Linked DNA regions of Homo sapiens: all the other regions are linked to region 1. The links come from fine-mapping of genetic effects on gene expression. A gene starts in region 1. Each other region holds a variant in brackets. All regions are shown on one strand. Distances are from middle to middle.

Evidence for each region.
Region 2: its variant is fine-mapped to the expression of COLQ in whole blood (TOPMed, PIP above 0.99). The same link has a PIP of 0.9 or more in blood mononuclear cells.
Region 3: its variant is fine-mapped to the expression of COLQ in lymphoblastoid cells (GTEx, PIP 0.94).
Region 4: its variant is fine-mapped to the expression of COLQ in coronary artery (GTEx, PIP 0.93).

The regions. Positions count from the first base shown.
Region 1 is chr3:15,516,758-15,524,865 of GRCh38, forward strand. It overlaps COLQ (collagen like tail subunit of asymmetric acetylcholinesterase), which reads right to left and starts at 4,949. Exons shown (of 17, transcript NM_005677.4): 1 at 4,763-4,949. The coding sequence starts at 4,868.
Region 2 is chr3:15,457,416-15,465,523 of GRCh38, forward strand. It overlaps COLQ (collagen like tail subunit of asymmetric acetylcholinesterase), which reads right to left. Exons shown (of 17, transcript NM_005677.4): 13 at 771-910. Among named protein-coding and RNA genes, the nearest start is that of EAF1, 34 kb to the left of the region's middle. The variant G/C (reference allele first, on the strand shown) is at 3,938.
Region 3 is chr3:15,582,887-15,590,994 of GRCh38, forward strand. HACL1 (2-hydroxyacyl-CoA lyase 1) reads right to left here. Exons shown (of 17, transcript NM_012260.4): 5 at 6,654-6,726; 6 at 3,639-3,716; 7 at 2,362-2,456; 8 at 1-103. Among named protein-coding and RNA genes, the nearest start is that of HACL1, 15 kb to the right of the region's middle. The variant G/A (reference allele first, on the strand shown) is at 4,268.
Region 4 is chr3:15,541,756-15,549,863 of GRCh38, forward strand. No RefSeq gene overlaps it. Among named protein-coding and RNA genes, the nearest start is that of COLQ, 24 kb to the left of the region's middle. The variant G/A (reference allele first, on the strand shown) is at 4,220.

The DNA of each region.
Region 1 (8,108 bases):
TGGCAAGTCATGCACACTTTAATATAAAGCAATATTCAATCTTTTGCTAGAGCTTTGGGCATTGATATACTGAGGAAAAAGCAGGAGGGAATGGAAAATAAAGAATCCAGGCCAGGCGTGGTGGCTGTAATCCCAGCACTTTGGGAGGTCAAGGCCAGCGGATCACTTGAGGTCAGGAGTTCGAGACCAGCCTGGCCAACATGGCAAAACCCCATCTCTACTAAAAATACAAAAATTTGTCAGGCTTGGTGGCACGTGCCTGTACTCCTAGCTACTCAAGAGGCAGAGGTATGACAATCGCTTGAACCTGGAAGGCGGAGGGTTGCAGTGAGCCGAGATCGCACCACTGCACTCCAGCCTGGGCAACAGAGCGAGACCCTGTCTCGAAAAAACAAACAAAAAAGAATCCAGAGGAGAGTTTCCAGAGGATAGGAGGGTAGCCTACAGGACTTTAAAGGCCAATATCACTATTTATCCAAAACCATAAGGAGATTTGGTATATACTGGTGAAAGCCCTGGACTTAAAGAAGCAGGATTTCAGTCTCCAGCTCTCCCACATAACAGCTGCATGACCTTGGGCAAGTCACTTAACCTTTCTGAGCTGCCATTTCCTCATCTGAAAGGGGAAGTGGTGCTGCCCCCATTCAGGAGTGCTGCGAGAATTACACAAATTAAACTGTGTGGAAGGCCTGCCCTCCGGTAAATATCATTGTCTTTGTGTCTGTGCCTCCACATTCTGGAAATTGTACTACTACTGAGCTACCACTGTGGGTGGATACTGGAGCCAAGTCAATCCACAGACCCATAAGTGAGTCCAGCCAGGGCCAGCCAAACCCAAGCTAGATTAGCTGACCCTCAGTTTACCCACAAACACATGAACTTCAACAATAAATGGTTGTTGTTTTGATCTACCAAGTGTCACGGTGGTTTATTACCCACCAATGGTTAACGCAATACACCAAACGTGGGAATCTTGGCATTTTTAATAATTGCCATGTTCAATAGAAATCATTCTAATATATAAATGGCATTTATCTACCTTCTTAAGCAAGATAAAGTAGGCACAATCCAGTCATCACTGGTCCATTCATGTTCATCATAATGAAAACCAGTTAATGTACTGTAGTCAATGACGCCTTCAGGGGTTACAGACAGAGCAGAGGCTCTAGAGGTAGCTCTAGTCTACTATGTTTTGTTTGTTTTTTTAAACGAAGTTTCACTCTTGTTACCCAGGTTGGAGTGCAATGGCGCGATCTCAGCTCACTGCTACCTCCGCCTCCCAGGTTCAAGCAATTCTCCCGCCTCAGCCTCCTGAGTAGCTGGGATTACAGGCATGCACCACCACATCCAGATAAATTTGTATTTTTAGTAGAGACAGGGTTTTCTCCATGTTGGTCAGGCTGGTCTCGAACTCCTGACCTCAGGTGATCCACCCACCTCAGCCTCCCAAAGTGCTGGGATTACAGGCGTGAGCCACCGCGCCTGGCCTACTATTCTTTTTGAAATCTCAGGCCCATTTCCTAATTCTTTATTGTTTTTCTTGTAATCATTCTTATCATCCGTCATTGTGTCTAGCTTAAGCAGCAACTCCTCCCTCCCCAATTTAATATGCTATATATAATCACCAGCTTTCAAGTCACGGACTATCTATGTCTATTAGAGTGGTGCCCAAAGTAAGAGTTAATAGGCTTAGAATAAAGGCCTGAAATAGTTTTGTGTGTATCAAATATTATGTGCTTTAGCGATGGCATTTCTATCATCAGTTCTGGCCTCTGATGTTTTTTGCTCCTTCCTGGTTCTCCTCTGGGACCCAGCAGAGGAGGTTGCCAGGTAATGAACCTCTGATCCAGATAGCTGGTGCTGCACATGGCACTGCTGGAATAGTCTTTCTTGAAGACAGTGAAGGAGTGGATTATCTATGAAGGTAAGTACTGGCTTACAGGCCCATGAGAGCTCTTCCTCCATCACAACCCCTTTCCGGGGCATTTACCACACGCCACCTGTGTTTCAAAAGCAGGTGATCATGGAATCCCTCAGAGCAGAGGCCACATCCTACTTGTCTCCGTGTCCCTTGAAGCACACATTAGAGTGCCAGGCACACAGTAGGCACTCACTAAGTTATAATGCATAGAATGAAAAGATTTTCCTGGTTGCCCTTATTTTCTGTGTATACACAGCCTATCTTCAGAAGAATTAAGAGTCTATAAGCTTCTGAATATAGAATATTTTATATCAAACTGTTGGAAAATATTTCCAAAGGATTACAAGGAACAGCTTCCATTTTTTTAAAGCTTAAGTTTATTTCTGAACTGTGCTATCATAAAGCCATGGTGACTAAATTAGGGGGGCAAAGCCAAGTGACCACCGGAGAAAACATATCTTTGTGATACTGAGCTGGTTACCTTAGTGATTCCCGCTAGGTCTATTCCATTGTTTTCCCTAATGTCTAATGACCACATTCCCAGCCAGAAGTGCCTGTGGATGTGCGCACTGGTTGTTCTCCATCCCAACCCTCCCCTTGGCTCTCTGCCCTCAGTGTTCCAGTCCCTGACCTCCAGGCTCTGCCCTCTGGCTTCAAGTTGGGTTGGCCAATGAGAGGCGCTGCCAAAAGGTGCTTGGATGGGAGGAGAGAGAAGATGGTGTACTTCTCCTTCACTTTCTCCCTGCTTTAGGGCCTTCCATGACCAATGCTCTTGCTTAATGGCCCCTTCTCTAAGGCTCCAAATCTGCCTGGGATCCATTTTCCTATTTGCCCCTCTTGCCTTTTCAAGCACAGGGTGGTAAAGGCATATTGCAGTTGCTAATCTCTAGGTGCCTCAGCATTCCTTGTTGGTTCCCTTAACCCCGCCCACACCTCTCAAAGTGATCCCTTCATTCAGATCTTTTCATCTGAACCACCTGAGTTGCTTCTTTATCCTGCTGTTGCCCTGATTGGTACAGTCTGCAAAAAGCTTACCTAAGAGATATCTATGTTGTGCCAGGGTGCTCTCCAAGGCAAAGAGTTCAAAAGAAAACCAGAGGTTCTTTTCTCTCTAGTTTTCTGAACTCCTTAACCACTTTGGTGCTATTTAAATTAAGTAATACAAAATGATGGTAAACCCCAGTTTGCAGATGAGAAGCTTTTATTCATTCATTCATCAAATATTTATTGATTACTATGTGCCAGGCACTGTTCTGACCCTGGGAAAACAGTAAAGTACAAGAGAGACACATGCCCTGGCCACATGGTGCTTATAGTGTAAGGCCACTGTCTCTCAGAAGTCAGGGAGCTCATCAGAGGCAGGGCTAGAACCAGAAAACTGAGTTTCCTTAAGTCCTAACCTTCAGCAGATTCTCAAAGGAATCCATGACCCAAACATGATTAAGAACCACCAAATTAGGCCAAATTAACTCTCAAGCTTCTCCCTTGAACTGGGGAATGAATAATGACTACTCACTCCTAGAAGAAGCTTGATGCTCTTAACTTGAATTTGCAGGGGCATGTGGGCACACACCCACGGTGACACCACCACTCACCTTTCCTGCCCACCCTCCTGAATTCTCCACAAATCTGCCCCCACCTCCTTCTGTTTCTCACACTTTTATAATTAGCCTCACACCAGTCTCTGAGTCACTCCCTCATGGCCCACAAACGTTGGCTACACAACTTGCTGATGAGCTGTTTTTATCAATGGACAGCAGTTGGGAGCTGGATTCAGAGATGTGCCCTCTCTGAGAGCCTGGCATTTCTGGCCCTCCCTGTGTTTCCAGCAAAGGCAGCGATAGTGAAATTTCTGTCTCAGTTGAAGTATTTATGAGACTCATGTTGGAGGCATAACTAAAACTTTGCTGGGGAGAGTCAGGGGTCACTGAGGTGAATTGAGGGGGGCTGTGAGGGTCTGCCTGCCTCCTTCAAGCCCTCCGGAAACATTTGAGTTTCCTCAGAAAGGTTTAAATAGGCCATACTAGTAACCGAATACTTCCCCTGCTCTGGGTCAGACAAGACAAGGGCAACAGGCTGCTGACCTCAGAAAAGGTTGCAGGCTGGCAGACACAGCCCCTTCCCCAAATCTCCCAGCCTCATACCCGGCAGACACACTCAGCTCCAGACCTGGCTGTCACTGTGGAACCCCCTCCACTTCTCCCTGGAAAGCTCACTTCTCTCAGGACCTCCAGCTGCCTTGTCTGAGGCTGAAGGGAAGTCGCACCCAGGAAGACAGGTCTGGAGAAAGGGAAAACCTAGTCCTGAGGCTGCAACTGCCCCGCCGCTGTTCACCCCCCACCCCACCGGCCCCTGCCACCTGCATTTTCCCTTCGAGGGACTATTGTGGCCATGGATGCTATCTGGGTCTGGAAAGAGGTTTGTTTACTCCACAACAGCCCCTGTGAGGCAAGCCCCCTTCGAAGAGGTCAGAGATGTATTTATAGAAACATCTGAGACTCACTTCTCTATTACTTGCACACCTCTGTCTCTTTTAAGCTCTCCCAAATTCCTGACCAAGATGAAATCATGCAGCAAATGGGGAGAATAGGGGAGGCAGAAACCATTTTTCAAAGTGTCTCTGCTTTGAGCAGCCAGGTAGGAGCCGGTTGGAACAAGGACAGAAGGGGCTTCCGAGACAAGCTCGGGTGACAGGAAGCTGCTGGGGTGGCCGTCTTCCTTCCAACCTCCCTCCACCAACAGTTGAATGGCAAAAACATCAGGACACATTGCAAAACAATCTTCCTTCCTCCCCCTGTCCCCTGACAGATGGAAGAGAGGAAAGTTGTGGCCATCATTTACCTGCTGAGATTGGAAGAACGCTGTTGATGAAAGTCGGCTGAGACACGATAGAGAGGAAGAAAAGCTGAAGATAAATTCCCAAAGTCATTGGATTCAGGACAACCATGCTGGCCAGGGTCTGGCGAGGGTCAAGTTAGAAAGGAGGCTGCTGCGGAGCCTTGCTTATCTCTGCTTTTCTCTTCCTCACTGCTGTTTGCGTGCGCGTGTGTTTGTGTGTGTGTGTGTGCGTGTGTGTGTGTGTCTGTGTGTGTGTGTGTCTTTCCCTCTTTCTCTTTCCCTCTCCCTCCTCCTCACCCCCTCCCTCTCTCTCCCTCCCCCACCTCTCCTGTCTCCCATGCCTTTACCAAGAAAGAATGCCAACCATTTCCCATTAAACTGTCTCCATGCTACAGAGAGTTATATTTATCTCAAGCTCCATATCAAATGCCCACATTAAAATTAAGATGTCAAAATTTTCTTTTTTGGAGACTGAGGTAAGTGGCTAGTGAAGAGGTGATGAGAAGGCAGCCAAGTCTCAGATGTTCACTGGAGGCAGTCCTCAAGGGCAGAGAGATTCCTAATTGGTTATGTGCCACCATCTACCTCCTTGGAACTGGGCAGAAACAACTCTCCTGATTCAAACTGAATTTCATGGAGAAAAACCCCTCCACTGTCAGCCTGTGACATTTTTACCCATTGTGTAACAAATGTAAAGTTAACTTTTAATTTTTTTCTTTAATCATCCAATAAAAAGGAGGAAGGAAGTAGTTTATATTTCCAAACAGCTTTCTCTGTGAAAAAGTGTTTCTCTCTCCAAAAGCTGCAACCTTTTGATTCAATGCAAGGCAAAATAAATGAAAACAGTAAAAGTATAGAAAAGTGAATGATTTTTATCAAACTATATTCAGAAAAATAACATCACTAACTTAATCTTTGGCTAGACAAAATTATTCAAATAAAAATTATCACATTCTTAATACCTTTTATGAGTTTATAAAAGCCTGTTATAGAGATGATTAGATGACTAAAACAAAATAATAATTCACAGAGTTGTTCATTTTGCTTTAATTTACATATTACATGCCTCATAGGAGTTAACTCAGAAACAGTCTGCTAGTTACTGGATGCTGGGGTGGGCATCCTGCCCCTGTGCTCATTATGGGGAAGGTGGAGTTGGGTCAGGGCGTGGTATAAAGTGATATTTTACAGCTGTAGCACCACACTTGGGCTTGACTCTCAGCTCTGAGTGGCAGTGGACAAGCTCACCTCTCTAAGCCTCAGTTTTCTCATCCATACAATGGAGACAATGTTCCCTTTAAAGGTTTGTTGGAAAGTTAAGTGAGGTAATGGGGATGAATCCTACACGGATTAGAACTTGCACATAGGAACAGCACAAAGGAGACCCAAGGGAGCCATGGTAGCCTGGGTGCAAAGATGGCCTCCAAAAGTCCTCCCAACCCAGTGTGTGCATGACACTCTTCCCAGCAAAAAGCAGGGCTAGTTCCCCTCCCTTAAATCTGAGGTGGCTCTGTGACTTACTTTGACCAATAGAATGTGGCTAAAGGGACACTGTGCCATCTCCTGGCCTAGGCCTTAAAAGGCCTGGCAGCTCCTGCTTTTGCCTTTTCTTGAAAATCAGCTGCCACTTTAAAAAGTCTGGACTATTGAAGAGGCCACATGGAGGGGGAAGCAGCCAGCCTCCAGCTGTTCTGACTATCCCAGATGCAGCATCAACAGGCGAGTGAGGCCATTTTGGAACATCTAGCCCTGTCCTGGTCTCAGATGATGCCAGCCACAGGAGTGACCCCAAGTGAGACCCTCGAAAGAACTGCCCAGCCCAGATTACGAAGTCATGAGCAAATAAAACGGCTATTGTTTCAAACCAGTAAGTTTTAGGATGACTTGCTCATCAGCAATAGCTAACTGATACAGAGTTGATAAGGAAAGCTTTTGAAAGCATGAAAAATATACCTGAACTACATTCAAAATTTATAGGACAGATTAAAGAGAGGGTACCCCCATTTAGCTGCTCCCAAAATTTTTACAAGAAGGAGCTGTGATTGCTGGCCAAACTCAATCAGGACATTCTCAGGCTCACTCTTGTTAACTCCTGGAGCCCCAGCAGCCAGCTTCCAGTGGCTTGGAGAAGGTACAGTCTACCTGGGAGGAAGGTATCTTTTGAGTAACTTGGTGTCAGAATATGAATTTTTACTATCTAGCTCAGATTCCTCCTCTGCAAAGCCAGTATGACTTCTTCCTTCTCTCAGCACAAAGAATTCACCACTGACCATACCCTTGGAACAAATTCTGTCAATACGTCCTACCGGTGACACCTGCTGCTATTGTTTTTGAACACCACCTTGTGTTGCTATTTAGCTGGCATTAACATCCCTAAAGATAGGGGACTATCCCACAGCTCTATGTACTCTCAAGGCCCCCAGGACAGTCCTTGTCACCTAACAGATCCTCAACAATGTAAGTTACTTTGATCAAATCACACCACTGGGTAGGATGAAAAAAGAAGAACGTACAAAAGTAGCATAACTTTATGCTCCAGCTTTCTGCACAACTTGCATTTCCCCAGCACCCCTTGGAGCCTCTGCACATACAGCTGGGTGGCCTGCGCCTGATACAAGGGAGGGCTTTGGTGAGTATGGTGAGAGTGTGAGAGGGACTATGGATGGCCACCTTGAATTAGGACCCGCAGACAGAGAGGCTAAATTTATAATTCAAGTCACTGGAGAATGAGTCACTGCTGATCTAAAGTTACGACAGGAGCCTCTACCCTTTGAGGAGGCCCCAACACAGAGTTATTTATAAGGCCCCAATACTTATTAAACAATTTTTAGTAAATTTCCATTTCCTTAGGTATCTTATATTTTATGAACCTATTTCTTATAAGATTACCCTAACTGACCAAGACAGAAATTATCATCTTTCTTCAAATCCTCCTGGAAGGGCTCTGATGTTTCCAGAATCTAATAACATAGACTATTAGATTTGTCCAGAAGGAAACTATTTGAGATTTGAGAAAAGCTCACACCAATAAAGCCATTCAAAGTCAGAGTCTTCCCTCTCAGACCTTGTAGGCAGGACTGTACACTGGAAAACAATCTTTTGGCCCCATTAAACTTAAAATGCACATGCCGTCTGACCCAGAAGTTCTCAGAAATACTCATTCACTACCCAGTGGTTTAGGTGCAAGGGTGTGCATTGTTGCCTCAAGTTGGAAACAGCCTAACTGTCCATGAATGAAACATTGGTGGAATAAATCCTGGGACATCCATTCAAAATGTTATGCAGTGACTAGAAAGAATAAGGCAGTCTTTGCAACAAATGGTGCTGGAAAAATTTGACTTCCATATGC
Region 2 (8,108 bases), 59 kb before region 1:
GGAGTGAGTAGGCATAAAGAGAAAACAAGGACACAGGCTCGCCATGAGTTGATCATTATTAAAGTTGGGTGAAGGGTACACAGGGGTTCATTACACTATTTGTTCTGCTTTTATATGTATTTGAAATTTTCCCTAATAAAAAGTTTAAAATGTTATTTATAGAGTGTGGAAACATGGCAGGATTTCAACTAAGATAACAAAGTATAACTTTTTTTGAGACGGAGTCTCGCTCTGTTGCCCAGGCTGGAGTGCAGTGGTGCTATCTCAGCTCACTGCAATCTCCGCCTCCTGGGTTCAAGCGATTCTCCCACCTCAGCCTCCCAAGTAGCTGAGACAACAGGCGTGCACCACCGCGCCCGGCTAATTTTTTAAATATATTTTTTAGTAGAGATGGGGTTTCACTGTATCGGCCAGGCTGATCTCGAACTCCTGACCTTATAATCCACCCACCTTGGCCTCCCAAAGTGCTGGGATTACAGGCATAAGCCACCATGCCCGGCCAAAAGTACATTTTTATACAATATAATCTCAACCATATAAAAGTTAGATTTTAATAAGACAAAGAAAATACCCCAAAATGGACTCACAATCAAATGGACAATTTGGTTTTCCTCTTGATTTTCTCATATTTTCCAATTTCCTATAATGAGGGTGTACTCAGAGTCGTGAAAAAAAGTTAGTTTTACTGAAAGGATTTTACAAAGCCCCATAAGGATCAGGTGAGAGGTCCTCACGGATAACCACCCCAGACTTCTCCCAGAAAGCCTTACCACAGGAACTCGCGGGGAACTGGGCCCATACACAGATTCCCCGTAGGAAGGGTTATTCACATTCATAGTGGGTCCACAAAGACATCTTCCTGGAGGCCCGGGAAATCCTCTTTCCCCTTTGGGTCCCATTATAAGTTGTCCTAGGAAGCAACAGACTGCTGTGTTACTAGAGCCAAGGAAGAGAAGACCAAACAACCAGGGAGATGTGAGCGACCTTTGCAACAGAAAAAAGGTTAAAGTCCACAGCATTTCAGGGTATGCCTGAGGGAGAGGTTCAAAGAGATGCTTTTGATCCAAGACATGGAGGAGCTAAGGTAAGAAAAATAGCTGGTAGGCGATAGTTTCCCCCTCCTTCCTGCCTTGAAGACAGGCAAGATGTCTGGTGTTGCAGCAGCCGTGTTGCAACCAGGAAGTCACAAGCATGAGAAGATAAGCCAACATGCAGGAAAGACGAAAGGCTCATGGGGCCTGGGGCCCTGACAGTGACAGTCAGAGGCTGAATCAAAGCCAGCTACTGCCTGCCTCTGGATTTCTTTATTGGAGAAAAACAATGTCTTATTTGTTTAGACCATTATTAACAGAGGGCTTCTTGCCGACAAACACATTATTGACTGTTAACTTTTATTGTTTTAAAAAACTTTTGTTTTTCTTATATATAGAATTTTTTTTTTTTTTTGAGATGGAGTCTTGCTCTGTTGCCCAGGCTGGAGTGCAGTGGCACGATCTTGGCTCACTACAACCTTTGCCTCCCAGGTTCAAGTGAGTCTCCTGCCTCAGCCTCCTGTGTAGCTGGGATTACGGGTGTGTGCCACCACACCAGGCTAATTTTTGTATTTTTAGTAGAGACGGGGTTTTGCCATGTTGGCCAGGCTGGTCTCGATCTCCTGACCTCAAGTAATCCGCCCACCTCAGCCTCCCAAAGTGCTGGGATTACAGGCGTGAGCCACCATACCCAGCCAATGTAGGATCTTTACAGAGGAATTTCTGGATGTGGGTTTCTTTCATTTCTTCTGGAAGAAAATAGAACATTAGTATATGCTCTGCCCATTTACCCTCCCCTGGTGCTGAAGAAGTGAGGACATGTCTTGAAAAGATATGATCAGAAAGTGTACTCCCTAGCAATGTGGAAGAACTGTGAGGGTAGTACCTTGGTTTTTAAAGGCTCTGATACCCAGGATACACCTCAGACCAATTCCATCAAGACTTCTGAAAACTGAACTGAACCTAGGCAGCATCCACACTTTTATTTATTTATTAAAAAAAATTTTTTTACCACTTTAGCATAAGGCATCCTTTTTTTTTTTTTTTTTGGAGACGGAGCCTCACTCTGTCGCCCAGGGTGAAGTGCAGTGGTGTAATCTCAGCTCACTGCAACCTCCGCCTCTCAGGTTCAAGTGATTCTCCTGCCTCAACCTCCTGAGTAGCTGGGACTACAGGCACGTGCCATCAGGTTTGGCTAATTTTTGTGTTTTTAGTAGAGACAGGGTTTCACTCTGTTGGCCAGGCTGGTCTCGAACTCCTGACCTCAAGTGATCCATCTCCCTTGGCCTCCCAAAGTGCTGGGATTACAGGTGTGAGCTGCCGCGCCTGGTCAGGCACCCATATTTTATTATTATTATTATTATTATACTTTAAGTTTTAGGGTACATGTGCACAATGTGCAGGTTAGTTACATATGTATACATGTGCTAGGCATCCATATTTTTAAAAGCTCTCAAGATGATTCCAATTTGCCCCAAGGTTGAGAACTGGGCCATTCCCCTGCCAGATCATCCTCCCTTCATCCTCCATCCCTCCCCAGCTGCCTCTCAACTCCCTTCTGATCTGGGTTCAAACATCACTTCTTGAAGGAAGACTTTTTGAATCCTCAGACTCTGTCATGTATACCTGGGATACAATTTCATGGTTTCCTATGCCTTTCTTCACAGCACTTCTCTTTGTGATTCTATATATTGTGAGATTATTCCATCAAGGTTGATCTCCAGTAGAATGTCGCTCCACAAGGACAGGGCTAGTGCCTGTTTTCATCCACCAGGGCTTACACAAAGTAGGGGCATGGAAAGTGTTTGATGATCGAATGAATGAATGCCGACTAATTGGAGAGAAAAAGTCTTCAGAAGAGGGTAAAAGTCACATTCTGGCTGGCAGAAAAGCACCAGAACAAAAGCCATCTAACAGGAAGTGAGGAAAGAGAAAAAAAGATGGGGACTGAGAAGAGAAATAGGTAAGGATCCCTTCTTCTGGGAAAATAGCGAGGGGTGGGTTTGGAGGCCAGCCAGTCATTGGTGTCAGGCAGTATGACATCTGGGGCAGCCAGGGGCTGGGAACACAGTTCACAGATCCAGAAGGGCAGGAAATAAAATGACCCCAGGGGAGAGATCTGGCCAGGACCCCAGGGAAAACACTGCAGTCGGAGGAGACTGAACTTTCCTGAGCGAGTTGACAGGTATTCGTACAATCAGAATGCTGACAGCATGAGGGGAAGGGCACTGTGCCAATATCTTATCCTAAGTTATGGTTGTTTGTTCTAACAAGAAATACAAATATAATTCTGTAGGAAGAGCTCCAGTCTGTGTTCTGATATTTTCAGAAGAGCCCAGAGAGACAGGGAATCCACCAGGCTAGGAATATTCTGGGTAATTAAGCACTTGGGGAAATTGAAGTGGAAAAGCTCTGTGACCAAGAATATGAGGGTGGCATTGGAACAGCCTTCCAGAAGGCTCTGTGACCCCAACAACTCCTCCAGAACCATGGCCTGAGAGACAGTCAGGAGTTTGTCCCATTAGCTGCTGATGAATGGTGAGGCTGAGATTTGAATTCATGTTTTACTTAACACTATGCTGTTCAAAAGACAAATGTCCAAGAATACTGATGCTCTCAGGAAGCTGGCAATTCCCAGGTACCACGTTGATTCACTTATACTCTGTCTGGGTACAGGAAGGACTCAGCCAAATTTGTAATTTGATTATTGCAAATTACATCCTAAAGGCATTTTGCCTTTATTCCCCCCCCGACCTCTTAGCCCCTCTTACCCTCTAACTCAGATAAGTACAAAGCTCTCACCCTTTCCACCTCCCCCAGCACCATCTGGTCCCACAGAGCTGGGCACCAGAAACCGAGGTCACCTCCCAACAGGATGTGGCAGGGAGCCTGCTGCCACCACTGCA[G/C]TTTCCCTGCAGCTTCCTCCCAGTTGCTGCAGGGCATCTGTTACCCCTGCCTGTTTTCTGCCAGGCTATACTAAAGGACTCAGCAACCTGAACTTCCCCACCCTGACCTCTGGGAGATCATGTCTCAGCTGGGTTTCATCGCCACCCCCTGCAGCCAGAGGACCTGGCTCTCCATCTTTTCCCAGGCAGGCTCCCGCTTCCATTGGCTGCCTCAGTGGGAAAGGATCAGGAAAGGGGAATCTAGGAGAGGGCAGAGGAACCAGCACAACAACCTCTAGGGCCGCCTGGCTGACACTCACCCATTCTGGACCAGGGTGGCCCCCAGTCACTGCTGTGACCTTGCAGGCATCACTTCTCTTTGAGGTTCAAGATTCTTTTCTCTAAGGGGAGGGTAGGACTAGACCAGGGGAGTTTTAACCTGTGGTCTACAGAGGCCAAGGCTATCTCACGATGGCGCTGGGACAGGGGTTCTGGAACCCTGGGAAACAGGGTGCAAAACCTTGGATGTAGGTATATACAGTTTTTTCCCCCCCGAGAATGGGTTTGGGACTTTCATCAGACTGTCAAAGGTAGTGTCAGGAACCAATTTGGGGGGCCTAGTCCAACTCTGGATGATTATCCAACTGGTCCCAGGCACAGGGATAACTTATTTATTTATTTATTTATTTATTTATTTATTTATTTATTTATTTTTGAGATGGAGTCTTACTCTGTCGCCCAGGCGGGAGTGCAGTAGCGAGATCTCGGCTCACTGTAACCTCCGCCTCCCGGGTTCAAGTGATTCTCCTGTCTCAGCCTCCTGAGTAGCTGGGATTACAGGTGCCCGCTACCATGCCCGGCTAATTTTTGTATTTTTAGTAGAGATGGGGGTTTCACCATGTTGGCCAGGCTGGTCTCAAACTTCTGACCTCAAGTGATCCGTCCACCTCAGCCTCCCCAAGTGCTAGGATTACAGGCGTAAGCCACCGCGCCCGGCTGAATATCTCTTTTTAACTCCTTCCTTGCCCTCTCTCCCCACCCCTCCAATATTTTCCAAAGAGCAGGATTATTTATTGCCCCATCTTCTCTTTACCTTCTTCAGCCCGCTCACTCAGGAAGCCTCCTCAGAAAGGAAGTGGCTCAAAGGACGGAATGGGGGGCGGGGGCATCAATCCAAAGAGATGGTCCCACCCTGCTTGGCTCCTAAGGAGATGAACTGTGAACCCACAGAACCCCTGCCTGGGAGCCCCTGCAGGAAGCAGCCCTGTCCACCCACATACCAGGTGCCACTGGGGATGTGAAGCTGACTCAGCCGCCTACCTCGCCCTCAAGGATCTAGTGGGAAGATGAAACACATCTGCAGAAACGTTACCAATGGAGAGGCCATAACAGAGAGGCAATGACCAGGGCTCAGGGGAGGGTGATCCATCCTGTTAGGGGCCAAGGAAGGCCTTACTGAAAAGAGAGCTTCAAAGGAACAGAGAATTTTGTTGGATGGACAGAAGGTGAGAGGAGTGCCATGTAAGGTCATGTGGACCCAGAGAGACCATAGGAATAGCTCCAGCTCCACAGACGGCAAGGTGTCCTCTGAAGGGTAGAGGGCAGGGCGTGATTGGGCAGAGGCTGGGGTAGTCAAGGGAGAGGGAGGTGGGCATACTGGGTGGAAGAGAGGGAGCTGGAAGGCCAGGGAGAAAAAGTATGACTCTGCGGGGCCTGCTAAGAGGACAGGATTGCAATACACCGAAGACAGACAAGACAAGAGAAACAGCAGGCACCAAGAAGCTGCTGACAGCTCCAGCCTAGCCCTTCTCATCCATCCCCTAGCCCCAGGAGGGAACCAGACAAGTCAGGTGAGGGCTGGCCTTTACAAAGAGATAAACACAGTGAGACCATTAAGATCCCAGTCCGCTAAGGATCTCCTACACATCCCACATCCACCAATCCCATTGCCCCTGGACTACTCCTCAGTTTTTTTTGGTTTTGGTTTTGTTTTTTTTTGTTGTTTTTGTTGTTTTTTGTTTTTTGTTTTTTTTGAGATGGAGTCTTGCTCTGTCACCCAGGCTGGAGTGCAGTGACTCGATCTTGGCTTACTGCAAGCTCCGCCTCCCGGGTTCATGCCATTCTCCTGCCTCAGCCTCCCATGTAGCTGGGACTACAGGCGCCCGCCACTACGCCCGGCTAATTTTTTGTATTTTTAGTAGAGATGGGGTTTCACTGTGTTAGCCAGGATGGTCTCGATCTCCTGACCTCATGATCTGCCCACCTCGGCCTTCCAAAGTGCTGGGATTACAGGTGTGAGCCACCGCGCCTGGCCTACTCCTCAGTTTTGTGAGCCCCTAGGTACCCCAGGGGCCAAGAGAGTCCCTTCTGAAGGCACAACTCAGGCCAAGCTCTCAGTCTCTGCGGTTGGTAGCTCATAGTTATGGGGCTCCAGGGGGACATCATGCCTTCCAGAACCAAGGAGGAAGAGGACTAGTTGAAAGGACCCCCATTCAGATCATCCAGCCAATTCCAGAAATGAATTATGGAGTGTGGGCACATGGCCTGGGCTGCATCTCAAATCTGATTCCCCTAACAACATGGAAACAGGCGCAGCAAACATAAGTTATTACCCATACTAATCAGTGTTTGTTCTCCCAGTATTTCCTTCCTCCTCTCCCTATTTCAAGGAGGTAGCAAGAGTTTGTGCTTTCTTGCCCTTGCTAAAAGCAGGTACTATTGGAAACAAACTTTTCTTTCTGCCTTCTGTTCTCTGAAGGACAAAGCTCCTAATTGGGGTGCTGGTATATGAGGAGTATGAGGAAGGAGGGGTCAGGGATGGAAGAGGAGAGACCTCCCTAGACATGGACAGGAGAGGGACCCCTTGTATCCTGAGAAAGAGACAGGTCTCAGAAAGAATGGTTGTGGGGTGCTCCTTGGAAAGTTGAACTGTGGGGACCAGGACTCCCAGCCTTGAAAATGTTCTGATACCCACGTATGGCATGAGAACAGCAGCCACCAGGTATCTGTGGACCACAGGGACTTGGACAACAAGTCTATTTCTATTTCTACTCTATTTCAGAGGTGAATGGAGTAGACCAAAGGTTGGAGGGACCTTCCCTGACATTTTTCTGCCATAATTCACCAGGATCTTTGCCCAACCTATTTGTGGTTGTTGGAGGAGTAGTGAAAATCCTAATAATGCCTGAATTAATTTATTTGGCATCCTAGTAGGTTGGACTCTCAGAGCCAGATTTAACTTAGTTTAAAGGATCTAACAAAATATGACATTTCTTGCCCATCCCATGATGTGGTTGCAAATATAGTTCCATAAACACAGGAGGAGGGGGAATACACTGTGGAATTGTAAATGTCTTCATTTTCTTAAGAAAAAAGTTGGAATAAAAATTGTTTGGATTCCTTTTGTATAACTGAAGACAGAAAATGTTGCAGTCAACAAATGATCTTCTTGATACTGTCTTTATACAGTTGATGTGCTGTGAAAGCCCCTACCATGAGCTGACAAGGGAACGAAATAAAGGGCTTAGCTAATAAAATTGAATGAGGTAAAAGAGGAAGCAGCAGCTGGGTGTGGTGGCTCACGCCTGTATTCCCAGCACTTTGGGAGGCCGAGGTGGGCGGATCACGAGGTCCGGAGTTCCAGACCAGCCTGAACAAAATGGTGAAACCCCATCTCTACTAAAAATACAAGAATTAGCCAGGCGTGGTGGAAGGCACCTGTAATCCCATCTACTCAGGAGGCTGAGGCAGGGGAATCACTTGAACCCGGGAGGTGGAGGTTGCAGTGAGCCAAGATCGCACCACTGCACTCCAACCTGGGCGACAGAGCAAGGCTCCGTCTTGAAAACAACATACAAGGAAGCAGTGTATCTATGCCCTTCTCAATAACAGACTTTATATTTTGATTTATTTATTTATTTATTTATTTATTTATTTATTTATTTATTTATTTTGAGATGGAGTCTCGCTCTGTCACCCAGGCTGGAGTGCAGTTGCGCGATCTCGACTCACTGCAAGCTCCGCCTCCCAGGTTCATGCCGTTCTCCTGCCTCAGCCTCCCAAGTAGCTGGGACTATAGGCGCCCGCCACCACGCCCGGCTAATTTTTTGTATTTTTAGTAGAGATGGGGTTTCACCGTGTTAGCCAGGATGGTCTCAATCTCCTGATCTCGTGATCTGCCCACCTCGGCCTC
Region 3 (8,108 bases), 66 kb after region 1:
GATAAGAAGGGGTTGTTTGGCATTCCTAATAACAGAAGCCGCCGTGCACACAGCAGAGGTTTCTGCCATGCTAATAGGAGGTGACATGCAGCGTTCCATGTACCTGGAAAAAAAGAGCCCTATTAATTAAAAGAGGCCAACTATGATCTTTTTATTGTGAAAATTTCAAATATATAGAAAGGTAGAAAAAATAGTACAATAAATCTCCATACACCCCCATGTAGATCTAACAACTTAATATCATTTTACCACATTTGTTTCATATATACACACATAAACATGCATTTATTTTTCATGAACTATTTTAAAGTAAATAGGCATCAAGACACTTCACCCTTAAAAATTTCTCCATGCAGCTGTGAATAAGGACCTTCTCCTATATTCAACTATCACATCATTATCACATCTAGTAAATTAACAGTTATTCCCTGATATCATCTAATAACCAGTGAAATGGCCAATTCATTAACAGAAAATCTGAGTTAATGGCTTTGTACTGTAGTAGCAGCAGTAGCTGTCCTAACAGTAAAAACATAATAAAATCTAATATTTGCTATGTGCCATTTATTCTCATTTAACTGTCAAAACAATGAGGTTAGGTATTAACATCATCTCCATTTCACCACTGAGGAAAAAAAGACTCAGAGAAAGTAACTTGTCCAAGATCTCCAGATGGCACGTGGCAGAGACAGGACTGAACTAGTCATTCTGTCTCCAAAGTCCATGCTTTTAAACACCTTACCACATTTCTCTTTTTTTTTTTTCTTTTCTTTTTTTTTTTCTTTTGTGGAGACAGAGTCTTACTCTGTCACCCAGGCTTAAGTGCAGCGGTGCGAACTTGGCTCACTGCAACCTCCATCTCCCAAGTTCAAGCGATTCTCCTGCCTCAGCCTCCTGAGTAGCTGGGACTACAGGCACATGCCACCAAGCCTGGCTAATTTTTGTATTTTTCGTAGAGATGGGGTTTCACTATGTTGGCCAGGTTGGTCTCAAACTCCTACCTCAGGTGATCCACCCACCTCGGCCTCCCAAAGTGCTGAGATTACAGGTGTAAGCCACCGCACCCAGCCCCACTACAGTTCCACTCACTGGGTGTTAATATTTTAGTATCATAATATGCATTAGTAAAAGAAATATTCAAACTGTCACAGTTAAGTATTTCTGGACACCAAGTCCTGTGCTATTTCATTTATTCTAATTAATATAAATTATACTGTATAAAATTTAGACATATTGTCAAAATATTTAGACATATAATAAAAAAGGACAATCTGTATAAAATTTAGAAGAAGGCTTACAGAGTTAACTTACCTGAGCTTACCCTCCTCCCCTTAGTAGTATTTTGATTATCATGTTCAGGTATTAGGCAGAATAAACAAGTGTCTTTTTTATCTGACTCTCCGAAATAAAAAATCACTCCTGGCTGGGCACGGTGGCTCATGCCTGTAATCCCAGCACTTTGTGAGGCCGAGGTTGGTGGATCACAAGGTCAGGAGTTCGAGACCAGCCTGGCCAACATGATGGAACCCTGTCTCTACTAAAAATACAAAAATTAGCCAAGCATGGTGGCGGGCGCCTGTAATCCCAGCTACTTGGGAGGCTGAGGCAGGAGAATCGCTTGAACCCAGGAGGCAGAGGTTGCAGTGAGCTGAGATAGTGCCACTGCACTCCAGCCCGGGCAACAGGGAGAGACTCAGTCTCAAATTGAAAAAAAAATCACTCTTTGGTACACAGAGTATACAGTAAGACCCACTGACTCTCTGTAGTCACTAGAGAACCATTTGGTCCACAACAGCAGAAACGCACTAAACAGTACCCATGATGCTTTAACCCTAAGTACCTATCTCTATCAGGGGATGATTTAGATACCAGTGAAAAATGCTTTTTGTACTTCTTTTCACTTAGTGTTTATTTAAGAAATATGAGAATATGAGAAATCATAGAAACCTCTATACTGGAATATTTGTTAACCACAGAGAGAGACAGCTAGATGTTTTTTATCCTGAGTCCTAATACTTTTTAATAATCACCCAACCTCTTGGCTTACATTATAAAGATTCTCAAGGACCCATATTACATTAACGAGGGATGTATATTTATGGTTACTGGAGGAATATTTTCAACGAGGAGTTCAGGAAGTTCTAAGTATTTGGTTTAGTAATTAAATCCATAAATAACTACTAATATCATTTTAATTAAGAAAATTAACCCTTTGGCTAGGATTCAGTTTAATTACTAAATAATCAAGTTAAGACAAATGGAAATTAACTTATAAACTGCTGGGTAAATTCTTCTAAAAAGGTAGGCATTATGATAATACATGTACATTGAAGAAAGAATTCCAGCATAACTATTACTCACTTTATAGAATTCACATTCACCTGAAGGTTCACAAAATCTGCTGGTATGTCAACATAGCAAGCACCTGGACGACCATAGATACTGCTTCTCACTGCCTACGTTCATTACAAGTAGAAGAAAAGATTTGTAAAATCTCAGTCTTATCATATTCTACTCAAAGATAATTTAAAACTGGAAAATGAACACTTTTCATTTTTCTGGACATCCTTGTGGAGAAAAAAATAATTATGATGAAAATCGAAATGTCCTCTATTGACTACATTTTTAAAGATTTTTTGTTTAAAAGGGAGAGAGATAAGAAAGTATTCATTTAGGGCTTTAAAATTCATGTTCTATTACACTTTAGCTTGGGAAATTATTCACCCGGCTCTGCCTGCCAAGTTTTTGCACTGTAATATGTACTTTCATCTGCTTCCTAATCTTAGTAATCTGGCAGTGTTTTCAGAAACTGTGATGCTGTTACACGTATCAAATGGTTTCTGTAACTCCTGGTTTTGAAACAGCTAAAATGTAATTTCACGTATAAATGCTGATTATAATTTATAATACAGGTTGAGTATCTGTAATCCAAAAATCCAAAATCTTCCAAAATGTGAAACTTAGTGTGTGCCAAGAAGATGATACAGGTGGAAAATTCCATATCTGACCTCATGTGACAGCTCACAGTCAAAATGCAGGTGTCTAAACAGTTTATTCAGCATCCCCAAGGGAAAAATAATCATCAGACTATGTGTATAAGGTACATATGAAAAATAAATGAATTTCATATTTAGACTTGGGTCACATCCCCAAGATGTCTCATTATATATATGCAAATATTCTAAAATCTGAAAAAATCTGCAGTCAGAAACACTTCTGAAAAGCATTTCAGGTAAGGAATAATCAACCTGTATGCTGTATTAATTAACTAACGGAGGGTCTTAGAGGGTTTTGGTTTAATCCCAATTTTCAAAAATAATCTTTTGCAAAAGCACAAGAGAAAAGGTACTCAAGGGTTCATTATAAACCTTTCTCTTTACTTTTGTATAATTAAAAAGGTAATTTTAAAAACTAAAACACAGGAGAAACTTTTTCCAAAAATAACTTATTTTACCTCTCTATAATTAAATGTAATGACAGTGAACACTAAAATGTAAATAGCTTTCTAACAATGCCATTTTTAACTGCCTGGGTATGTTCCTAATTGTCACTCATTCTTTTGAGAATAAAAATAACAGTAAGTATGAGCAACTGAGAAAAATCAGTTGACTTGGAGAGCTTGTTATTAAATACTGTACCTTTTCAATAACAAAAGGAATAGCTTCTATGCTGCTTGGGCGGGCAGAGAACTTGGTATATAATCTACAAGCTTCAACCTACATGGAAAATGAAAATCACTTAAAATTCAGCTCACAATCATGTTACTCTCCTGAAAGAAGACAAAATGTTAAGTCATTAATTTCTTTTATGTTTAGAGGCAAGATGGAGAAAATATATTGCCTAGACTGTCCCTTAAAAGCCTATTCAAAGTACAAAGTTTTGCCTTGGTATGATTCAGGAAGCGTATCATACCAAAGATGCAAAATCTTTTGGCAAAGATGCAAAAGTCTGATAATACCCACCATCTAACACAACACAGGAAAATAGGCACTTCTATAAACTGCTGGTGAGACTATAAATGGGAAAGGAAGTTAAAATCTACAAAAAATTTAAATCAGCATATCTTTGGATCCAGCAATTTCACAGATAAGAATATAAAACTTCATCTGTTAGATTTTGTTATAATAATAATCTATTCTTACATTTCTGCCAGTGTTCCTTTTATATACTTTCTTGCTATGGTGTTTCGAATATATGAATTCAGTAGTGATAATTTTTCACTGTTTAATATATCTTGAGGCATTATATAGAAACTGTTTCTCTTGAT[G/A]TTTTAGTATGAAATCTATGAAAAGCTGATAGTCCCACAGGCATGACAAAATTAAGATCACCCTCCGATTTTCAGTCTATGTTCATGCCCTTTAGTTTTAAGGACTTCCACAAAAACCAGATACTTGGATTCTTTCTCTTCTGTTTTTAAATTTGATCTAATAAACTATTATTTTCCATTTCAGGAAAATGCCTCAGATCTATATATCTTGAGGCATTATATAGAAACTGTTTCTCTTGATGTTTTAGTATGAAATCTATGAAAAGCTGATAGTCCCACAGGCATGACAAAATTAAGATCACCCTCCGATTTTCAGTCTATGTTCATGCCCTTTAGTTTTAAGGACTTCCACAAAAACCAGATACTTGGATTCTTTCTCTTCTGTTTTTAAATTTGATCTAATAAACTATTATTTTCCATTTCAGGAAAAAAATATGTAGTGGACATTTATCCTGTTTTCTTTTTCACGTATATAGTTTCTGCAGTAACTTTAGATTTCCTTTTAATTAACTTAATCTGCTCTACTTATTTTCCAAACACATAAGCATCTTTTAAATAACTGTTATCGTCTACTATTAACTAAATAAAACTTCGATTCCCTTCTAAGAGTATAAAAATATAACTTTTGCATTAACTTATACTAGAGTTCAGTATTTTAGTTTATCATATATGAAATTTTATTTTTTGAAGTTCTCAGTAATGATTTCTGATTTACAAATAGACTTTGTCTAATGATTTTATTTATGTATTTATTTTTGAGATGGAGTTTCACTCTTGTCACCCAGACTGGAGTACAGTGGTACGATCTCGGCTCACTGTAACCTCTGCCTCCTGGGTTCAAGTGATTCTCCTGCCTCAGCCTCCCAAGTAGCGAGGATTACGGGCACCCACCACCAAGCCCAGCTAATTTTTGTATTTTTAGTAGAGACAGAGTTTCACCATGTTGGCCAGGCTGGTCTCAAACTCCTGACCTCAGGTGATCTACACGCTTGGGGCTCCCAAAGTGCTGTGATTACAGGGGTGAGCCACCATGCCCGGCTGTCTAATGATTTTAACTTTGTCCTGTAAATGCTCAAATATATTTATATCTTAAGTGTCAATCATTCACTTTCAGCTATTTGTTTCCAACAACTGTTTTTTCTAAAGACACGGTATCTTGGATGGGTGTGGTGGCTCACGCCTGTAATCCCAGTACTTTGGGAGGCCAAGGTGGTGGATCACTTGAGGTCAGGAGTTCAAGACCAGCCTGGGCACCATGGCAAAACACTGTCTCTGCAAAAAGTACAAAAATTATCTGGGCATGGTGGCGTGTGCCTATAGTCCCAGCCACTTAGGAGGCTGAGGTGGGAGGATGGCTTAAGCCTAGGAGGTAAAGGCTGCAGTGAGCCAAGACTGCGCCACTGCACTGCAGATTGGGCAACACAGCCATATCCTGTCTCAAAAAAGAAAAAAAAAAGAAAGAAAGAAAGACAGAGATAAGACCTGAATATGTTGTACAGACATATGTTTGGTCTCAAACATTTGGGCTCCAGCAATTCTCCCTCCTCAGCCTAGTAGCTGAGTAGCTAGGAATACAGTTACGAACCACGTGTCCAGCTTTATTCTTAAAACTGTAGCATTTTGTTGACATATTCTTTCAAGTTTCTTTTAATTTTGACATGCTTTCTTTCCTCCTTCTAAAATAAAAATATACTTGTCCAGAGTCTACTGATAATCATTTTGAGTAAGTTTTTTCCTCTTATTTCCCTAAAGTCTGGGAGGCATAGTCCAAAATCATTTTTATTCCTACATCTTCTTGACTCCTTTAAGAGCCTATTTTCAGAGCTTAAAATCCTGTCACAAAGGTGTATTTCTTGAAAGCTTGTTTCTAAGCAGGGCCTAAGCTCACCCTTAATATCCACCCTGAAGTTGTCTTATAGTAGCTCAAGATAATTACCTTTAAGTTACTTCAGGTACTTCTAATTTATTTATTTTATTTTGCAAACAGGAGGCTTTTTTATATCTTCTCTCTACCTCTTAATGGTGTGTATGTATTGTGTTACTAAAATCTTAAGAGTTGCAGGCCAAGTGCGGTGGCTCATGCTTGTAATCCCAGCACTTTGGAAAGCTGAGGCAGGTGGATCGCTTGAGCTCAAGAGTTCAAGACCAGCCTGGGCAACATGGTGAAACCTCGTCTCTACAAAAAACTCAAAAATTAGCCAGGCATGGTGGTGTGAACCTGTAGTCCCAGCTGCTTGGGAGGCTGAGGTGGGAAGATTGCTTGAGGTCAGGAGGTCAAGACTGCAGTGAGCTGAGATGGCACCACTGCACTGCAGCCTCAACAACAAAGCAAGATCCTGTTTCAAAAATTAAAAATAAAAAAAACCAAAATCTTAAAGTTGGATACCTGAGGAAACTCCTGGAAAGCTCCCATTGTTTCTTGGTTTCTTTCAGAGGAACCACCAATCACAAGCAAGGGCCTGAAACAATCATTTTTTTAACAAGATAATTACAAATTAGATCATCATGTAAAACACTAAACACAGTGTCTAATTCACAACAAATAATAAATGTTAAAGGGAGAGAATATTATATTTTTTTCTTAGAAACTGTAGATTAAGGCTGGGTGAGGTGGCTCACCCCTTGTAATCCAGCACTTTGGGAGGCCAAGGTGGGTGGATCACTTGAAATCAGGAGTTCAAGACCAGCATGGCCAACATGGTGAAACCCCAGCTCTACAAAAAATACAAAAATTAGCCAGGCGTGCTGGTGGGCGCCTGTAATCCCAGCTACTTGGGAGGCTGAGGTAGAAGAATTGCTTGAACCTGGGAAGCAGAGGTTACAGTGAGCCGAGATTGTGCCACTGCACCCCAGCCTGGGCAACAGAGCAAGACTCTGTCTCAAAAAAAAAGAAAGAAATTGTAGATTAAAAAATATCTAAGAAGCAACCTGATATGAGAGAACTTTCCTTAATATCAGAAAAAGACAAAATGTATAGTAAATGTTTTCCTTCCCTTCTTCCCCTTCCCCTTTTGGATGCTGACGCTAAGCTTCCAGGTATATTGACATAAAATAAATTTTTATGCCTTTCTTATTCTTGGGATAAGGGGAAGAAAAATTTTACACTTTCCTAAGTGAATCTATTTAGAAATTGCAAAATAAGTGACATTCCTCAGCAATGAAATTCTTATCCTTCAATGTGGAAAAAAAAAAGATATGGGAAACCTTAAGGTACTTAAAAAATATAACACCTTAAAGTAGATAAAGAAGAGAAAGATCAAAAGGAAAGTAAAGAAGAAACTATAAGAAACACAGGGCAAGAAAGAAAACAATGTCCTTTCCACTAGAAAGATTAAATATGTTCCAAATTGATTAGAACCTAACCCCCCTCAACCTGATCTCACTGGTAAAGTGCCAGAGACGGAGTTAAGGGCAAGATCAGAGAATAAGTACTAAATAGTTTATATATAAAGCAAACTAAATGAATATAAGAATTTCAAATATCTTCCTACCTATGCAAAACAAGGTGAAAAATTAGCCACATTTTACACACTGAGCTTGGATCTTTAAAAAAATAATTCTTCACTTAAAGTAAATAGAACTACACATACGTTCACACATACACACACATATTAGGAACTCTAAAATGTTAAAAGTGTTTATGGCAGCTGGGTGCGGTGGCTCATGCCTGTAATCCCAGCACTTTGGGAAGCCAAGGCAGGTGGATCACCTGAGGTCAGGAGTTTGAGACCAGCCTGGCCAGCATGGTGAAACCTCTTCTCTACTAAAAATACAAAAATTAGCCGGGCGTGGTGGCAGGGGCCTGTAATCCCAGCTACTTGGGAGGCTGACGCAGGAGAAT
Region 4 (8,108 bases), 25 kb after region 1:
CAGGATGGTAATAAGGCCCCTGAAAATTAGATCGTCCCCAGAGAAGAAGAAAACAAGGGAGAGGAATGAGCCTAAATTAAAGACTTACTCAAAAGAGACTTGAGTTTTAACCTCTACTGATAGAAGTCAGAAGAGTAATGGCTGTGGGGGATGCATGGGTTGGCTGGAGGGGGCATGAGGGAGCCTTCTGGATTATTGGCAATGCCCTATACCTTGATCTGGGTGGTGGTTACATGGCCACATACATATGAAAAATTCACCGAGCTGTACACTTAAATACTAAGTGGAAATGGAGTTCAGGAGCTAATTTCTATTATAGAGTAATAAAGAAAAGTTCACCAATTCTGTGAAATGTACACCTGCCACAACATAAGTGAAAACAAAGAATGGCAGACACATGAAGTAAACAAATATTTATATAGAAAAAAAGTATTATTTATGAATCTAAACAGTGAGTGACCAAGATGCCAAACAGAAACATGATTAAGAACAGGGAACTTGAGAATATAAAATTATAACATTGCTGGAATACTCATTCTTGTAACTCCTATTTCAATGAGTTAAATTAGAAGTAGACTATACCCTTTTCAAGATCATCATCCCTGGAATTAGAGATGGAAGGAAGCTTTGAAATCCTCCTTCACTGGTTCCAAAACTGGGCTGCACACTGGAATCACCTGGAGAGCTTTAAAAAATACTGATGCCTGGGGCCCACTCTAGAGATTCTGATGTAATTGGTCTGAGGTGTGGCTTGGGAATCAGGATTTTTAAAAGCTCCCCAGGTGATTTCAATGTGCCGCCAGGGTTGAGAATTATGGGTCAATTTCAACCACTCTTCTCACAAATGAGAACACAGAGGCCCAGGACTGGCAAATGGTTTGCTAAATATCCATTAATTGGCTGCAGCCAATTTTCTCTGATGTGCTCTAATAGGAGGGAGCTGTGGTATGGACAATACCAAACAATGAATAATCTAAAAATAATTTATATTTGGTTCGGGAAAGCAGCACATGACTTCCTGGCTGCCGACTGGCCTGGCTAATTCAGTTGGGTCGAAATGAATGTGCTCTTTCCTGCACTGACACTGACAACCCAGCTCTGTGCTGAGATGTGGAAGGAAGGTGGCCAAATTAAACACCGGCTGCAGCCAGTTCTCCAGTGGGCAACAGACATGGTGTCAATGGCACATAGTAACAATATGGATGTAGGGACTTGTCTAACAGAGGATTCCACGATGGAGCAAAGCTAGCTTTCTCCTCATCCTATACTCTAAGAGGGAGGGGGACCAGAGGCATAAAGACGGAACGAAGGAAGAGGGGCTTATGTTTTTCAAGGAGCTATTTGGTGCCAGGTTTCATAATAAGCATTTCTATAAACAGCATATGGTCTTAGCTCTATAGAGTTAGGCATTCTGGAACCCACATTATAGAGATGAGGAAACTGAGGTTCAGAGAGGTTGTATAACCCAAAGCAGAGCCAGAATAGAAACTCCAGCTTACCACACTCAACACTTTCCGACATACCATCTGTCTGTCGAAGAGGGAGAGATGCAGATGGACTTGGGTCAGATCCTTAGATTGTAAGTGCTGCTAAGCAAACTTCACCTCCCGATTTTTCAGTTCTAACAGTCTAAAGGCAGCAACAAAGAGACCTCCAGAAAGTACCTGTGCAGCCATGAGAATCTGTCTCCAATCACGGGAGCATAACTGACCAAGAGCCCCAGCTGCCACTCTCTGAAATCTGTCACCCACATTTACGCTAAGGCCACATTTCCCAGGCATTGTGCTGCTCCTCTCCAATGTCCAGTAGAAATATGAAGGTGGCCCTGTTCCTGGGAGGCATGGGACTCCTCTGATAAAAGTCTTGCCAAATTCTCCTCAGATGGCACCCAGCCAGGATGCTTCTGCCCATCCTTCCTACCCTCTTTCCTCATTGAGGTCTGACCTGCATTGCAGTCTGATGGCTCTCAGCCTTTTCCAGCTCTTCTGTTTTCTCTCACAGAGGCATTTCCCTTAATAAAGTCCCTCATGTATTTAATCCTACCTTGGCATCTACTTTCCAGAGGACCTGGACAACAGAAATGCCCCTAGCTAATGGTGCCCCCAACTATACACACATCACAGTGGGGAAGGCGAGGAGAGAAAAGGTCATCTGCTGACTCATCAAGGGGAAGCTGGTCTGAAATTTTTTAATAAAATTGTGGGTACACAGGTGTATAAATTTATGGAGTACACAAGATATTTTGATACAGGCATACAATGCATAATAATCACATCAGTGTAAATAGGGTATCCATCACCACACATATTTATCCTTCTTTGTTGTTGTTGTGACAAACGATCCAATTATACTCTTTGGGTTATTGTAAAATGTACAATTGTTGACTACAGTCATCCTGTTGTGCTGTCAAATACTAGGTCTTATTCATTCTTTTTATTCTTCTGTACCCATTAACCATCCCCACTGCCCTCTCTCCTGACTACTGTTGCCAGCCTCTGGTAACCTCTCTATGTCCATGAGTTCGATTGTTTTAACTTTTAGCTCCCACCAATAAGTGAGAACATGTGAAGTTTGTCTTTCTGTGCCTGGCTTATTTCACTTAACATAATGACCTCCAATTCCATCCATGTTGCTGCAAATGAAAGGATCTCATTCTTTTTATGGCTGAATAGTACTCCATTGTGTATATGTACCACATTTTCTTTATCCATCCATCTGCTGATGGACACTTAGGTTGTTTCCAGAACTTGGCTACTGTGAACAGTGCTACAATAAACATGGGAGTGCAGATACTGCTTCAATATACTGATTTTTCTTTTGGGTATAAGCCTAGGAGTGGGTTGCTGGATCATATTGTAGCTCTATTTTTAGTGGGTTTTTTTTTTTTTTTTTTTTTTTTTTTTTGAGACATGGTCTTGCTCTGTCACCTAGGCTGGAGAGCAGTGGCACACTCTCGGCTCACCATAGCCTCTACCTCTTGGGCTCAAGCAATCCCCCATCCTTAGTCTCCCGAGTAGTTGGGACTATAGGCATATACAATCATGCCTGGCTAATTTTTTATTTTTGTATTTTTGTAGAGATGGGGCTTTGCCATATTTCCCAGGCTGGTCTAAACACCTGAGCTGAAGCGATCCACCCTCCTCAGCCTCCCAAAGTGCTGACATTACAGGTGTGAGCCACTGTGCCCGGCCCTCTATTTTCAGTTTTTTGAGGAACCTCCAAACTGCTCTCCATAGTGGTTGTACTAATTTATATTCCACCAACAGTGTACAAGAGTTCCCTTTTCTCCACATCCTCTCCAGCATTTGTTATTGCCTGTCTTTTGAATAAAAGCCATTTTAACTGGGGTGAGAAAGCATCTCATTGCAGTTTTCATATGCATTTCTCTGATGACCATATTTAGCACCTTTTCATATACCTGTTTCCCATTTGTATGACTTACTTTGAGAAATGTCTGTTCAGATCTCTTGCCCATTTTTTAATTGTATTAGATTTTTTCCATACAGAGCTGTTTGAGCTCCTTATATATTCTGATGAGTAGTTTGCAAATATTTTCTCCCAGTCTGTGGGTTGTCTCTTCACTTTGTTTCCTTTGCTGTGCAGAAGCTTTTTAACTTGATGTGACTCCATTTGTCTATTTTTGCTTTGGTTGCCTGTGCTTGTGGGGTATTACTTATGGTTCAATCTTGGTAGGTTGTATGTGTCTAGGAACTTATCCATTTCTTCTGGGTTTTCCAATTTCTTGTCATATAGTTGCTCCAATGATCCTTTGAATTTCTGTGATATCAGTTGTAATGTCTCCTTTTTCATCTCTGATTTATTTGGGTCTTCTCTTTTCCTTAATCTGGCGAAAGGATTTTATTTTTTAAAAAATTGTTCTGTTGAACTTTTGCATTGTTTTCTTTATTTCAATTACATTTATTTCTGCTCTGCTCTTTATTATTTCTTCTACTAATCTTAAGTTTGGTTTGCTCTTGCTTTGCTAAATCTTTAAGATATATTGTTAGGTTGTTTATTTGAAGTTTCTCTATTTTTTCTTTTTTTTTTTTTTTTGAGATGGAGTCTTGCTCTGTCACCCAGGCTAGAGTACAGTGGTGCAATACTGGCTCGCTGCATCCTCTGCCTCCTGGGTTCAAGCAATTCTCCTGCCTCAGCCTCCTGAGTAGCTGGGATTACAGGCATGTGCCACCACACCCAGCTTTTTTCTTTTGTACTTTTA[G/A]TAGAGACAGGGTTTCACCATGTTGGCCAGGCTGGTCTTGAACTCCTGACCTCAGGTGATCCACCCACCTCAGCCTCCCAGAATGCTGGGATTACAGGCGTGAGCCACTGCACCCAGCCAGTTTTTCTACTTTTTTGATGTAGGTACTTATAGCTATAAACTTCCCTCTTAGCACTGCTTTGCTGTATTCCATAGGTTTTGGTATGCTGTGTTTCCATTATCATGTGTTTCAATAATTTTTTCAGTTTCCTTCTTAATTTCCTCACTGACCCATTGGTTACTCAGACACATACTGTTTAATTTCCATGTGTTTGTATAGTTTCCAAAATTCCTCATTATCGATTTCCAGTTTTATTCCATTGAGATCAGGGAGGAGACTTGATATTATTTCAGTTTTTTAAAATGTTTTAAGACTTGTTTTGTGGCCTAACATATGGTCTATGCTTGAGAATAATCTATGTGCTGAGGAGAAGAATGTATATTCTGCAGCCATTGCATGAATTGTTCTATAAATATCTATTAGGTCCATCTGGTCTGCAGTGCAGATTAAGTCCAATGTTACTTTGTTTTCTGTCTGGATGATTTGTCCAATGCTGAAAGTGGGGTGTTGAAGTCTCCCACTATTATTATATTGGGGTCTATCTCTCTCTTTAACTCTATTAATGTTTGCTTTATATATCTGGGTGCTCCAGTATTGGATGCATATATAATTGTTATATCCTCTTCCTGAATTGACTCCTCTATAATTATATAATAATCTGGCCTCTTTTTACAGTTTTTGTCTTGAAGTCTATTTTGTCTGATACAGGTATAGCTACTCCTGCTCTTTTTTGATTTCCATTTGCATGGAGTATCTCTTTCCATCCCTTTCTTTTGTCTATGAGTGTCTTTATACGTGAAGTGTGTTTCTTGTAGGCAACAGATCATTGGGTCTTTTTTTTTCTTTATCCATTCAACCACTCTATGCTTTTTGATTGGAGCATTTAGTCCATTTACATTCAATGTTATTATTGATAAGTAATGACTTGTTTTCTGGTTGTTTTGTGGTCTTCTCTTCCTTCTTTCCTTCTGTCCTGTCTTCCTTTCTAGCCGAGGTGATTTTCTCTAGTGGTATGTTTTAATTTCTTCCTTTTTATTGTTTGTGTTATCAATCATATGTTTTTTGATTTGAGGTTACCATGAAGCTTGCAAATAATATCTTATAACCCATTTCTTTAAACTGATGACAACTTAACACTTGTATAAACAAGCAAAGAGAAAACTAATTAAAATGCTACACTTTTTACATCAGTATAGTGTGAGAAATAAAAATAAAAAATCTGTACACTTTAACTTCTTCCCTCTACTTTTTATTTTGTTTTTGTTTTAATTTATACCTTACTGAACTCTGTCTTGAACAGTTGTTGCAGTTATTGTTTTGTTTTGAGATAGGCTCTCACTTAACGCCCAGGCTGGCTGTAGCCTCGACCTCCAGGGTGGTGACTCCCACCTCAGCCTCCTGAGTAGCTGAAAGTGCAGGAACATGCCACTACACTCAACTAATTTTTTGTATTTTTTTGTAGTGACAGGGTTTCACTATGTTGCCCAGGCTGGTCTTGAACTCTTGAGCTCAAGCAACCTGCCTACCTTGGCCTCCCAAAGTGCTGGGATTACAGGCAAGAGCCACTGTGCCTGGCCATTTTTGACTTGTCCATCATTTAGTCTTTCTACTTAAGATATGAGTTTGCACACCACAATTACAGTGTTATAATATTTTGTGTTTTTCTGTGTGTTTACTATTAACAGTGAATTCTGCAGCTTCAGATAATTTCTTATTGCTCATTAAGGTCTTTTTCTTTCAGATTGAAGAATTCCCTTTAGCATTTCTTGTAGGACAGGTCTGGTGTTGATGAAACCCTTCAGCTTTTGTCTGGGAAAGTATTTCTTCTTCACAGTTGAAGGAAATTTTTGCTGGTTATATTATTCTACAGTAAAAGTTTTTTCCTTCAGCACTTGAAATGTGTCATGTCACTCTTTTTCCTGGCCTGTAAGGTTTCCACTGCAAAGTCTGCTGCGAGACGTACTGAAGCGTCATTGTATACTGTTTCTTTTCTCTTGCTTGTAGGCTGACTTCCTTATCCTTGACCTTTGGGAGTTTCATTATTAAATGCCTTGAGGTAGCCTTCTTTAGGTTAAATCTGCTTGGTGTTCTATAACCATCTTGTACTTGAATATTAATATCTTTCTCTAGGTTTGGGAAGCTGTTATTATCCTTTTGAATAAACTTTCTACCCTCATCTCTCTCTCTACCTACCTCCTCTTTAGGGCCAATAACTTTTTTTTTGAGACGGACTCTTGCTCTGTCACCCAGGTTGGAGTGCAGTGGCACAATCTTGGCTCACTGCAACCTCCACCTGCCGGGTTCAAGTGATTCTCCTGCCTCAGCCTCCTAAGTAGCTGGGACTACAGGCACGTGCCACCACACCTGGCCAATTTTTTTGTATTTTTTGTAGAGATGGGGTTTCACCGTGTTAGCCAGGATGGTCTCGATCTCCTGACCTCATCATCCACCCACCTCGGCCTCCCAAAGTGCTGGGATGACAGGCGTGAGCCACCATGCCCGGCCTTAAGGCCAATAACTCTTAGATTTGCCCTTTTGATGCTACTTTCTAGATCTTGTAGGCATGCTTCATTCTTTTCTTTCTTTCTTTTTTTTTTTTTTTTGTCTGTGACCATGTATTTTCAAGTAGCTTGTCTTCAAGCTCACTGATTCTTTCTTCTGCTTCATCAATTCTGCTGTTAAGAGACTGAAACATCCTTCGGCATGTCAACTGCATTTTTCAAATCCAGAATTTCTGCTTGATTCTACTTAATCGTTTCAATCTCTTTGTTAAATTTATCTGAAAAGATTCTGAATTCCTTCTGTGTTATTTTGAATTTCTTTGACTTTCCTCAAAACCGAGTTCCTTTTGAATTCGGTCTGAAAGTTCACATATTTCTGTCTCTTTGGGATTGGTCCCTAGTGCTTTAGTTAGTTTGGTGAGGTCATGTTTTCCTGGATGGTCTTGATGCTTGCAGATGTTCATCAGTGCATGCACATTGAAGAGTTAGGTATTGATATGGTTTGGCTGTGTCCCCACCCAAATCTCAACTTGAATTGTATCTCCCAGAATTCCCACGTGTTGTGGGAGGGACCCAGGGGGAGGTAATTGAATCATGGGGGCTGGTCTTTCCCATGCTATTCTCGTGATAGTAAGTCTCACGAGATCTGATGGGTTTATCAGGGGTTTCCGCTTTTGCTTTTTCCTCATTTTCTCCTGTTGCCACCATGTAAGAAGTGCTTTTTAACCTCCCACCATGATTCTGAGCCTCCCCAGCCATATGGAACTGTAAGTCCAATTAAACCTCTTTTTCTTCCCAGACTCGGGTATGTCTTTACAAGCAGCATGAAAATGAACTAATACAGTAACTTGGTACCAGTAGAGTGGGGCATTGCTGAAAAGATACCTGAATATGTGAAAGCAACTTTGGAACTGGCTAACAGGCAGAGATTGGAATAGTTTGAAGGGCTCAGAAGAAAACAGGAAAATGTGGGAAAGTTTGGAACTTCCTAGAGACTTGTCGAATAGCTTTATCCAAAATGCTGATGGTGATATGGACAATACAATTTAGGCTGAGGTGGTCTCAGATGGAGATGAGGAACTTTTTGGGAACTGGAGCAAAGATGACTCTTGTTATGTTTTAGCAAAGAGAGTGGCAACATTTTGCCCCTGCCCTAGAGATTTGTGGAACTTTGAATTTGAGAGAGATGATTTAGGGTATCTGGCAGAAGAAATTTCTAAGCAGCAAAGCATTCAAGAGGTTACTTGGGTGCTGTTAAAGCCATTCACTTTTATAAGGGAAGAAGAGC